Linked DNA regions of Homo sapiens: region 2 is linked to region 1. The links come from fine-mapping of genetic effects on gene expression. A gene starts in region 1. The other region holds a variant in brackets. All regions are shown on one strand. Distances are from middle to middle. Region 1 holds the start of ZNF783 (zinc finger protein 783). Region 2 has its middle 8.7 kb from the start of TRC-GCA1-1.

Region 1 (5,367 bases):
ATTTCTTGGGAACTAGTTAGAATTGCAAATTCGCATCACTTTCATCCCCTCCTGTTTCAGACCTAGAAATGTTGAGGTTTGTGCCTAGCATCCTGTATTTTTAACAAGAACCCTCAGTGAACATGATGCACACTGAAGTTTGAGTACCACTGACTTAGAGAAACTTTTTTTCTAAAAAACGAAGACTAGCTGTCAAACATTATAGCACTCTTTCCTCAACAGAGCTCATTAAATCCTAGCATTTTTGTCTCCAGCCCATTTTCCTGACCCTTTCTTTCTTTCTTTTTCTTTTTTTTTTTTTTTGAGATGGGGTTTTGCTCTTGTTGCCCAGGCTGGAGTGCAATGGCATGATCTCGGCTTACTGCAACCTCTGCTTCCCGGGTTCAAGCGATTATCCTGCCTCAGCCTCCAGAGTACCTCACCACCACACCCAGCTAATTTTTTGTATTAGTAGAGATGGGGTTTCATCATGTTGGCCAGGCTGGTCTCGAACTCCTGACCTCAGGTGATCCATCCGCCTCAGCCTCCCAAACTGCTGGGATTACAGGCATGAGCCACGGCTCCTGGCCCATTTTCCTGACCCTTTCTGTTTGCATTGGACCTTAACTGTTATTCTATAACGTCACCATTTACTGGTATTTTATAATCCTGAATAGATTGGACTGATCCCTGATAAGATCCTAGGGATGCTCTTAATGTCTTTAGTGCATACTTGCAGTTTGTGTTTTAGATTGGGATAGTTCAACAAGAATTTCCAAAATGAATAATGCCAAATATTTATTTGATTTGTTACCTTAAAGTAACACGTCCTAACCTTTCCGCAAATTTTGGGGTTCACCTTACTTAGGATATCAGTTTGTGTTTTTTCTGATAGTTGACCACGCTTTTGCTTGGCTCAAATATTTGTGAAAATAACTTCTCACCCTCACCCCCCCCCCCCAAAAAAGAAAAAACAAAACCAAAACCAAAAAACCCCAAACAAACCCAAACACAGAAAGAAACAAAACTGCAGATTTCTAGCGGGAAGAGTTTGCCAGCTTGTTGGACAAAGACTGTGAGATGAATGGGAAATGCAGAAAAGACAGAAAACAAAGCTTCAACTGCATACAGCACATTTAGTTCAATATGCCTCAGCACAGGCCGAGGAAAATGGGTCCTGCGGTTTATTCAAGATGCCTCAGGGCCTAAATGAGGGATGGACTGATTCACACTTGCTGTGATCTCAGCCTGGACCAAAGCTACAGAAGGGTCCTCGTGGGTGGCTGAGGACTTTCACCAGGCGGGCCCCGGGAGGAGGAAGGGACCCCAGAGTCCTCAGGAGGGGAGGGCAGGCTTAGGAAAAAAAAAAAAAAAATCCTACCATCTTCACGTTTGTTCTGTCAAATTTAAAAGAGACTTTAAAAACGTTCATGTAAGTTTCCCTGGCTTCTCCCTGGGTACACACGTATCCTTTTTACTTTCCCCAACTCAGTTCTGTGGTGCGTGGGAGGCGCTGCAACAGAGTCTCGGTCCGGACTGGAGCCCCGGCGAGGGCCGACCCCGTTCCCCACGCAGCTTTCCCTCGCGAGGTTTCGCACTTTCCAGCGCGGTTCCTTCCCGCAGCCCTCCCGGCTCCCGCGTGGGACGCAGAGAGAGGTTGGGCGCCGCGCTGGCCCGGGAGTGGCTTACGCCTGACGTAGCCCCGCTGGAGGCCGTGGCACGCCCGCCCTGGCGTCAACTCCCGCGCCCCGGGTGAGGGTGGGTGGCCGCGCCTGGGTCCCGGACGCCGCGGGCGCTGAAGGCCTCGGGAGGGCGCGGGGCGGCGGCCGCGGGCGTGCGGTCCTACGGGCTGCAGGGGGCGCTGTGCGCGTCCTCAAGCTCGGCCGCCGAGCGCAGCTCTTTTTTAAAGGGCCAGCGGGGCACGTGGCTCGGGACGCAGTTCGCTGCCGCCCGGCAGTAGCTCTCAGGTTAGGCGGGTCCCGCTCCGCTTCCGCCGTCGCTGCCGCGCCGCCCCGGGCCCGACAGGCCGGGTCCAGGGACTGCAACCCAGCGAGGGACGCGGGCAGCCATGGCCGAAGCGGCGCCTGCCCGGGTAAGCGCCCTCGGCCCCGCGGACGCCCGGAAGGCCCAGGCCGCCGCCGCGTGAGCCCGCGCGAGGGACTCTGGCCGCGCGAGGCCGCGGGGTGAGAGGGCCTTGCGCGCAGCCTCCGCGCTCGTTGCCCCCGGCCCATCGCCCAGCCCGCGTCGAAGGCATTGACCGGGCGGCCCAAATGCCAGGCCCGGCGGGCGGGGCCCCGACGTCAGCGGCTGACGATCCGGCCCATCTGCGGCCTCAGCCAGGCCGGGCCCCAGAGTCACGCTCGGCGACGAGGAGGCCGCGCCTTAGGAGTATTGTCCCATTTGAGGCCTCGCGGCCCCCCCTACAGCAGGCTGGGCGGGCAGGGGCCGCCAGCCCCACGGGACAGTAGCGGAGGCTGAGATGGGAAGGGACAGGCCCAGGGTCACGCATCTATTAGAGGCGGGAGCCTCACGCCGGGGCAGGGATTTTGGAATTAGACACTTTAAAACGCCTCATATTCTACTTTTGCCAAAGAGAAAGATTGTGTCGTTTACAAGAGAGATAGTAGATTTTTTTAAAAAAGATTACTGTAGCAGATTTTATTTAATTTTTTTTTTTGAGAGGGAGTCTCGCTCTGTTGCGCATGCTGGATGGAGTGCAGTGGCACGATCTCGGCTCACTGCAAGCTCCGCCTCCCGGCTTCAAGGGATTCTCCTGCCTCAGCCTCCCAAGTAGCTGGGACTACAGGCGCCTGCTACCACGCCTGGCTAATTTTTCTATTTTTGGTAGAGACTGGGTTTCACTATGTTGGCCAGGCTGGTCTCGAACCCCTGACCTCGTGATCTGCCCGCCCCGGCCTCCCAAAGTGCTGGGATTACAGACGAGAGCTACCGCGCCCGGCCATTTTAAAATTTTTTAATTAAAAAAGTATATATATATACGTGTGTGTGTGTGTGTGTGTGTGTGTGTGTGTGTGTGTGTATATATATATATATATATATTTTTTTTTTAGACACAGTCTCACTCTCACCCAGGGTGGAGTGTAGTGGCGGGATCTCATCTCACTGCAACCTCTGCCTCTGCCTCCCGGGTTCAAGGTATTCTCCTGCCTCAGCCTCCCAATCCCAAGTAGCTGGGATTACAGGCGCAGGTGCCTGTCTCATTTATATCTATCTATCTATCTGTCCAGATACATATCTATATGAATAAGTTTATTCATAAGAATACACTATAAGTATTCCTATACAGAATTTTTCTCCTGGAGAAGGAAGAATCACATCAGTTTTTTTGGCATCTTCATCTATATAAGTTAGGCCAGTTTAGCAGATTTTAGAATCTTGGTTTGATATAGTGCAGTATGTCCAATTGGGAGATTATAATCCTTTGGCCATTTTTGACATACTGGAAAACGCTTGTAAAGGCTCAATAGATGATACCTACTATTATTAATACACCTCAGTGAAGGTTTTGAAACCTTGATTTTTCTGGATACTTTTATTAAAGTATAACTTCCTCTCCCTCCTCTTAGTGAGTGTGCTGAGCTTCTTTTTGGGTTCCCTGAGTGCAAGGGAGAGAAAAAGCGTTGAGGATTCTGCAGGTTTATAGTCCTGTTCCCTGGGAAGAGGGGGCCCTAGAAGGTGACATCATCCACTCCCCCTAGCCTGGGGCTCACTGCTTCACTACCTTTCAGATCACTCCTGTCCACCTGCTCCTCCCTTCTTGCAGCACTTGAGATCCCAAAAAACTCCCCAAAAGGGACAGATTTGCCCTGGACTCTTGTTAGCCCATCCTATCACACTGTTGTTGTTTATAAGTATTCCTATACAGAATTTTTCTCCTGGAGAAGGAAGAACCACATCAGTTTTTTCTTCATCTTCACTGTACATTTACTATGATAGGTGTTCAGTAATTGTTATTGAATGAATGAAGCAATTATAGATTACTAGTGCTAAGGGGGAGGGGCAGTGAAAATCTCTAGGATGCGTTGTCTATGCTAGAATCTTAAAAACGAGAGAGACTCAGGCATACAGAGGATGCATATTGAGAGCTGATGTGAAGTTGGAGGAGGGCCGGGTGGGTCCTCGGAATCCACAGGAGGCTGGCATGGCTGGAGCACGACAGGAACTGGATGGCTCAAGGTCAAGAGAGGTCGGCTGGGCCATGAAGAAGTCTAGATCTTATGCCAGGTACACTGGGAAGCTATTGAAGAGTTTTAAGCAGGGTACTGAAATGATCTATTTGTGTTTTTAAAAGATTACCAGGCCGGGAGCAGTGGCTCACTGACTCACGCCTGTAATCCCAGCACTTTGGGAGGCTGAGGCGGGCGGATCACAAGGTCAGGAGTTTGAGACCAGCCTGGCCAATATGGTGAAAGCCTGTCTCTACTGAAAATATAAAAATCAGCTGGGTGTGGTGGCGGGCGTCTGTAGTCCCAGCTACTTGGGAGGCTGAGGCAGGAGAATCGCTTGAACTTGGGAGGTGGAGGTTGCAGTGAGCCGAGATTGCGCCACTGTACCCCAGCCTGGGCGACAGAGCAAGACTCCGTCTCAAAAAAAAAAAAAAAAAAAAGATTAACAATTACTCTGTGGAAAGTGTATTGTCGGGGAGAAGCCTGGAAGTAGGGGAGAAGGCTGGAAGTGGGGGAGAAGGCTGGAAGTGGGGGAGAAGGCTGGAAGTGGGGGAGAAGGCTGGAAGTGGGGAAATCAGGTGGGCAGGACCGCAGTGGCCCAGGCCAAGCAAGGTGATGGGAACTTGGACTAGACACTGGCAGTGGAGAAGGAGAAACATGGATGGATTTGAGGTAATTTTGGAAGTTAGGACCTGATGGTGATTTAACCATGAAGGATGAATGAAATTGAGGAGTGAGATGTTGATTTGTCTCTCCAACAAGGCTTTTAGCAGCACCAACCAGGACTGTGCCCATTGCGCATGCACAATGAGGGCTTGTGAATCAGATACCAGGGTAAGCTGAGGCACTTGAGAAGCTTTTTCCAAGGCACTGAAGGACAATGGAATAAAAGAGGTGGAGGTTAAAAAAAAGGCCATATGAACTATTTATACCATATCCCTGAGCTGGAACCATCACCATAATCACTGTCATTGTCTCAGTCTGCTCAGGCTGCCTTGGTTCCCGGCAGGGCTCTTTTCCTGGTTTGCAGACGGCTGCCTTCTCATTGTATCCTCACGTGGCATACAGCAAGATCATCTCCCTTGTGTCTCCTCTTACAAGGGCGCTAATCCTATTTATGAGGGCTCTGCCTTCATGGCCTAATTGCCTCCCAGAAGCTCCACCTCCAAATACCGGCATATTGGGGATTAATGCTTCAGCA
Region 2 (5,377 bases), 39 kb after region 1:
CCCTTCCTCATTACCGCACCTTCTAGAATTTCCACTTCCTTTACTCTAGGCCATTGTCATGCCCAAGCTCCGAGGAGCCATGTCAGTAGATGATTAGGACCTGTTCCGGGTCTCCTTCCTAGAGCACAATCCAGAGTCCTGGGGGAAGGTGTCCATACCAGTGCCCTCTCCAGCTTACATCCATCCTGTCCCTGATGATCCAGAGCTACATGTTGCTCTGATGGCAGCTGGCTTGGGGTTGTGGTTTCAATTGTGTCCTCCCAAAGATATGCTCAAGTCCTAATCTTCAGTACCTGTAAGTGTGACCTAGGTTGGAAATAGGGGTTTTGCAGATATAATTAAGATGTAAGTTAAGATGAGGTCACACTGGAGTAGGATGGGCCCTTAATCCAGTATGGCTGGTGTCCATGTAAGAGGAGAATGCCATGTGAAGGGCACAGATGCAGAAGGACATCATGTGATGGTGGAGTGAGTTTGGAGGGACGTGTCTGCAGGTCAAGGAAGGGTGGTTGCTGGTGACACCAGAAGCGAGGAGAGGGATGTGGAACAGGTTCTCCCCTGGAGTCTTCAGAGGGAGCACGGCCTTCCTCGCACCTTGATACCACACTTGCAGCCTCTGGAAGTGTGAGGGAATACATTTCCATTGTTTTAAGCCCCGCAGTGTGTGGTCCTTTGTTTCAGTGGCCCTAGGACACTCCTGGGGTGGAGACTGTGCTTCTCCACTGGGCCAGGACGAATGGGGCAGTGGAGGCACAGCTTTGAGGAGGAGGGCGAGGCTGGGTCCTGCTCCAGGAGAGGCTATTACTTGTTCTCCAGGGGAGAGGCAGCTGTTCCACTTTCTCCTGGCAGGAATAAGGAGAAAACAGAATAGCTTTTCCTCCCTCAGCCCTGCTTTACCATCTGGAAAGTGCAGGGAGATTGGGTGGGGGTGGGGTCCCCATTTCTCAGACTTGTCTATCCAAATCTCCCCATCCTGGACCCCATGTCCCACTGTCCCATGTGGACTCTGACTCTGACCTGGGCAGCCCATTGCTGTCCCTTGTCTCCTTCCAGCCTTCTGCACAGACTGCTCCATGGCTACAGGATGTGAGAGCCTCTTTCTTTTTCTTTTCTTTTTTTTTTTTTTTGAGACGGAGAGTCTCACTCTGTCGCCCAGGCTGGAGTGCAGTGGCGCAATCTGGGCTCACTGCAAGCTCTGCCTCCCGGGTTCACGCCATTCTCCTGCCTCAGCCTCCCCAGTAGCTGGGACTACAGGTACCCGCCACCATGCCCAACTAATTTTTTTGTCTTTTTTTAGTAGAGACGGGGTTTCACCGTGTTAGCCAGGATGGTCTCGATCTCCTGACCTCGTGATCCGCCTGCCTCAGCCTCCCAAAGTGCTGGGATTACAGGCGTGAGCCACCGCACCTGGCCAAGAGCCTCTTTCAAAGCCCCTTAATGACCTTCTGGTATTCAGTTTGTCTCAGTTGGCGGTTGGCTGTCCTGAGCCCGCTGTTTCATTTATGCAAAGTGTTCATGTTGTGAATGGAAGCCAGACCCCTTACTATCCTCATCTTTATCATTGCCCTACACCAGGCACTGGCAACTGCAGCTTCGAGCCGAATCTGGGCAGCTATATAATTTGCAGGGCCCAGTGCAAAATCAAACTGTGGGTCCCCTTATTCAAAGGCAGGAAGAAAGTACCATGGAGGGTACTAAAATACTAAGCTTCTTCCTTTCTTCCACACTCTCTCTTTTGACCTATCATAGTGTTTTTTGTTTGCTCTTTACTGTCATTCTGAGTAAAGAAAAGTTAAAACATTAATTGTTAATGTAAAACAAAAATTAAAAACATTATGAGCGTGTGTACCATTCATCTTTGTATTATGAACGGATAGTTTTAAATGCAAATAGAAGAGCATTTACTGGGATGCAGAATCACTGAAATCACATGATTCCACACAAGTAAACAATATTTGTAGTTCACACATGCATATGCGTTTCATTCTTACAAGAACCGTGGAAACTGCCCAAAGCTAACTTCATTGTTTTCATTTCACTTCCTGCTCCATGCCCGTTCTACCAACACTCTCTATCTTCAGTATAACCAGGAGCAAAGGACTAACGGAAAAGGAGCCATGGGCTGCCCTCTCTTCTTCCTTCTAGCCCAACATTTTCAGAGTAAGTAATTGGCTAGCACATGTATGATAATACGAGTAGCATGGGGAAGAAAGTGTCTGATACATTTCCTTGGTTGCTTGTGTTTCTCAGAACACCATGTGATATGGTTTGGCTGTGTCCCCACCCAAGTCTCATCTTGAATTGTAATTCCCACAGTTCCCATGTGTTTTGGGAGGAACCTGGTGGGAGTAATTGAATCATGGGGGCGGGCTTTCCTGTGCTGTTCTAGTGATAGTGAATAAGTCTCATGAGATCTGGATCTGATGGTTTTAAAAACTGGAGTTTCCCTGCACAAGCTTTCTCTTTGCCTCCAAACCATCTAAGATGTAACTTGCTTCTTCTTGCCTTCTGCCGTGATTGTGAGGCCTCCCCAGCCATGCGGAACTGTAAGTCCATTAAACCTCTTTCTTTTGTAAATTGCCCAGTCTTGGGTATGTCTTTAGCAGCAGCGTAAAAATGGACTAATACACCATGGTATTCTTTCTGTATTTGAACCAAGTTCTGGTCCCAAAGGAAAGTAGGACCTCTTGGGCTGTCAGAACCCTACTTTCTCGGTCATAGATGGAATGTGCTTACCTTGTATATCCCATTGGGTCTTGCTGGACTCCATGCATTGTGGGCCTTCGGAATGCAATGGGGCACCACAAGCACTCTATATGCAAATTGGGCTGCAAGGAACATGCTGTGCTCATCTCTGCTCCTGACATGCTCATTGTCCTATTGGATTTCACCTGCAAAACACAAGTTCAAAGGTAAGATTATGAGTTTCCTGATGGCGACAGCAGAGCATGATAGCAAACTCAGGTCTTTCTAAGCATGGGGTTCTGTGCCACTGCACAGGTTCATGCCCATAAAGCGCTCCTGATCTAAGTGGTACTTGAGAGGTGTTAGTATC[A/G]CCTGTTCCAGGCACTGCTGAATAGAGCAGGAGTTCCAGACAGAGTCCTGCTCTTTTACTATGAAATCACAGTGCAGTTGGGGGATGTGAGTTTATGTATTCAATAATTCATTTCAGTAGCATTTTCCATGCTAAGTCCTGTACATTAGATATATCAAATATGCGGGATCTGCAGTGAGAGTCCATGCTCTGAGATGTGTGTGAACGTGCATGCGTTAGATGTGTGAAGGGCTTGAATGGCTCGAATCCAATACAAAGCAGCAATAATGAAATAGACTACACGTTGATGTGGGAACCCGGGAGAAGGGTAGACTGGCCGTCAAGAGAGTCAGGGATGAGCTCACAGGAGCATGACGCTTGTGCTCGGTCTCAAAGAATGAGTAAATGTCTTCAGGGACTCTCCAAGGCGTGAATCCCGTCCAAAGGCCTCAGCCACCCACCTCCGCCGCCACCTCTGCTACCATCCTGCCTCAAACATCATGCTCCACAGCCAGGCCTTCCCCTGGCTCCCTGCACTGCCCACTGGGGGCCTCCCTCATGGCCAGGGTAAACGGCCCATCTTTCTACCTGGCCACGCTGGCCATGCTTCCAGGCCTCTGCTCTCGCTGGTCCTCTGCCCGAGAGCCCTTCCCTTCAGACATTCGCATGGCTTGCTCCCCGCTCCTTTCAGATCACTTGCAGATGTCACCTCTGAATGCTCCATCTAAAATACCACCCTACTTGCTGCTGGGGCCCCTTCTCTTTCCCCCACTCTGCCTTATGTGTCTTCACAGCACAGATTTGCACCTGACATTAATTATTTGATTATTATCTTTTTAAAAAAATTATTTATTTTTTGACACTGGGTCTCCCTCTGCCACCCAGCCTGGAGTGCAGTGGTGTAAACACAGCTCACTGCAGCCTCAACTTCCTGGGCTCAAGCAATCCTCCTGCCCCAGCTGTCAAGTAGCTGTGACCACATGCACATGCCACCACACCTGGCTAATTTTTGAATTTTTTGTAGAGATGGGGTCCCACCGTGTTGCCCAGGCTGGTCTTGAACTCCTGGACTCATATGATCCTCCTGCCTCTTGCTCCCAAAGTGCAGGGATTACAGACGTGAGCCACTGTGCCCTGCCTGTTTGATTATTATCTACTCCATGAGAATGGGGATGTTGTTTTGTTCCTGCTTGATGCCCAGTACCTAGAATAATGCCTGGCACATAGTAGGTGCTTACTAAATATTTGAATTATGAAATGAGTGTTTTGTGTCTGTTTCTACTAAAATGTAAATTCTTTGAAAGCAAGCACCATGTTCTTCATCTCTGCATCTATCCTGTTTAGCACAGAGCCTGGCACAGAGGAGATGCTTCATAAACATTACCTGATCTCTTCAAATGGCAACATAACATTCCACTAAGTGAATGCTGTTAACCATTCCCCTACTACTAGACATTTAGAGTTTTTTTTCTAGTTTTAAATTAAAAATAATACAGTGATAATCTTAGGTTTCTTATTTTTCATGGGTGTTTATTTATTTAAAATAGATTCTCAGAAGTGGCATGACTGAGTCAATATAATAAATACAATATTGCCAAAATTGCTTTCCAAAAGGGTTGGAGAGGATTGAAAATGTGGAAAATCCCATTTTACCCTTGCCATCTTAAAATGTTAGTGCTAGATAACAAACAAGCAGAAACAAAAACAAAACAACAACAAAAAGTACTGTGTTGACGGTATTGGTCAGCCCGGGCTGCTAAAACAAAATACCATGGACTAGGCAGCTTGAACAACAGAAATTTATTTCTCACAGTTCTGGAAGCTGGAAGTCCAAGATCAAGATGTGGGCAGATTCTCTCCTGGCTCTCCTTAGGGCTCTTCTTCTGGCTTGCAGACATCCTCAACATGTTGGGGAGAGAGGGAGAGAGAGTGGGAGAGAAAAGGAGAGAGAGAGAGAGAGATGTGGAGATGTGGTCTCTCTTCATGTAAGGGCACTAATCCCACCCTGGGGCCCCACCCTCATGACCTCATGTAAACCTAATTACCTCCTAAAAGCCCTACCTTCAAACAATATCACTTTGGGGATTAGGGCTTCACCATATGAATTTTGGAGGACACAGACATTCAGTCCATAACAGTAACCAAGAAAAGTTTCTGGAAGGCAACAGCATGACCAGATTCATTTTGTGTGCATTATGGGTTGAATTATTTCCCCCTCCCTTTTTTTTTTTTTGACATGGAGGCTCGCTCTGACGCCCAGGCTGGAGTGCAATGGCACAATCTCGACTCACTGCAACCCCTGCCTCCTGGGCTGAAGCAATTTTCCTGCCTCAGCCTCTCCAG

The links. PIP is the estimated chance that this variant, and not a neighbour inherited with it, causes the effect. A credible set is the group of variants that fine-mapping cannot tell apart.
Region 2: its variant is the best candidate, but not a certain one, in a credible set for the expression of ZNF783 in NK cells (Gilchrist 2021, PIP 0.71).

What each region holds. Positions count from the first base shown.
Region 1 is chr7:149,260,287-149,265,653 of GRCh38, forward strand. ZNF783 (zinc finger protein 783) reads left to right here and starts at 1,910. Exons shown (of 6, transcript NM_001195220.2): 1 at 1,910-2,071. The coding sequence starts at 2,048. It overlaps LOC124901769 (a long non-coding RNA gene), which reads right to left and starts at 2,055. Exons shown (of 2, transcript XR_007060582.1): 1 at 1,361-2,055. RefSeq lists a silencer at 1,508-2,377.
Region 2 is chr7:149,298,814-149,304,190 of GRCh38, forward strand. No RefSeq gene overlaps it. Among named protein-coding and RNA genes, the nearest start is that of TRC-GCA1-1, 8.7 kb to the right of the region's middle. The variant A/G (reference allele first, on the strand shown) is at 3,056.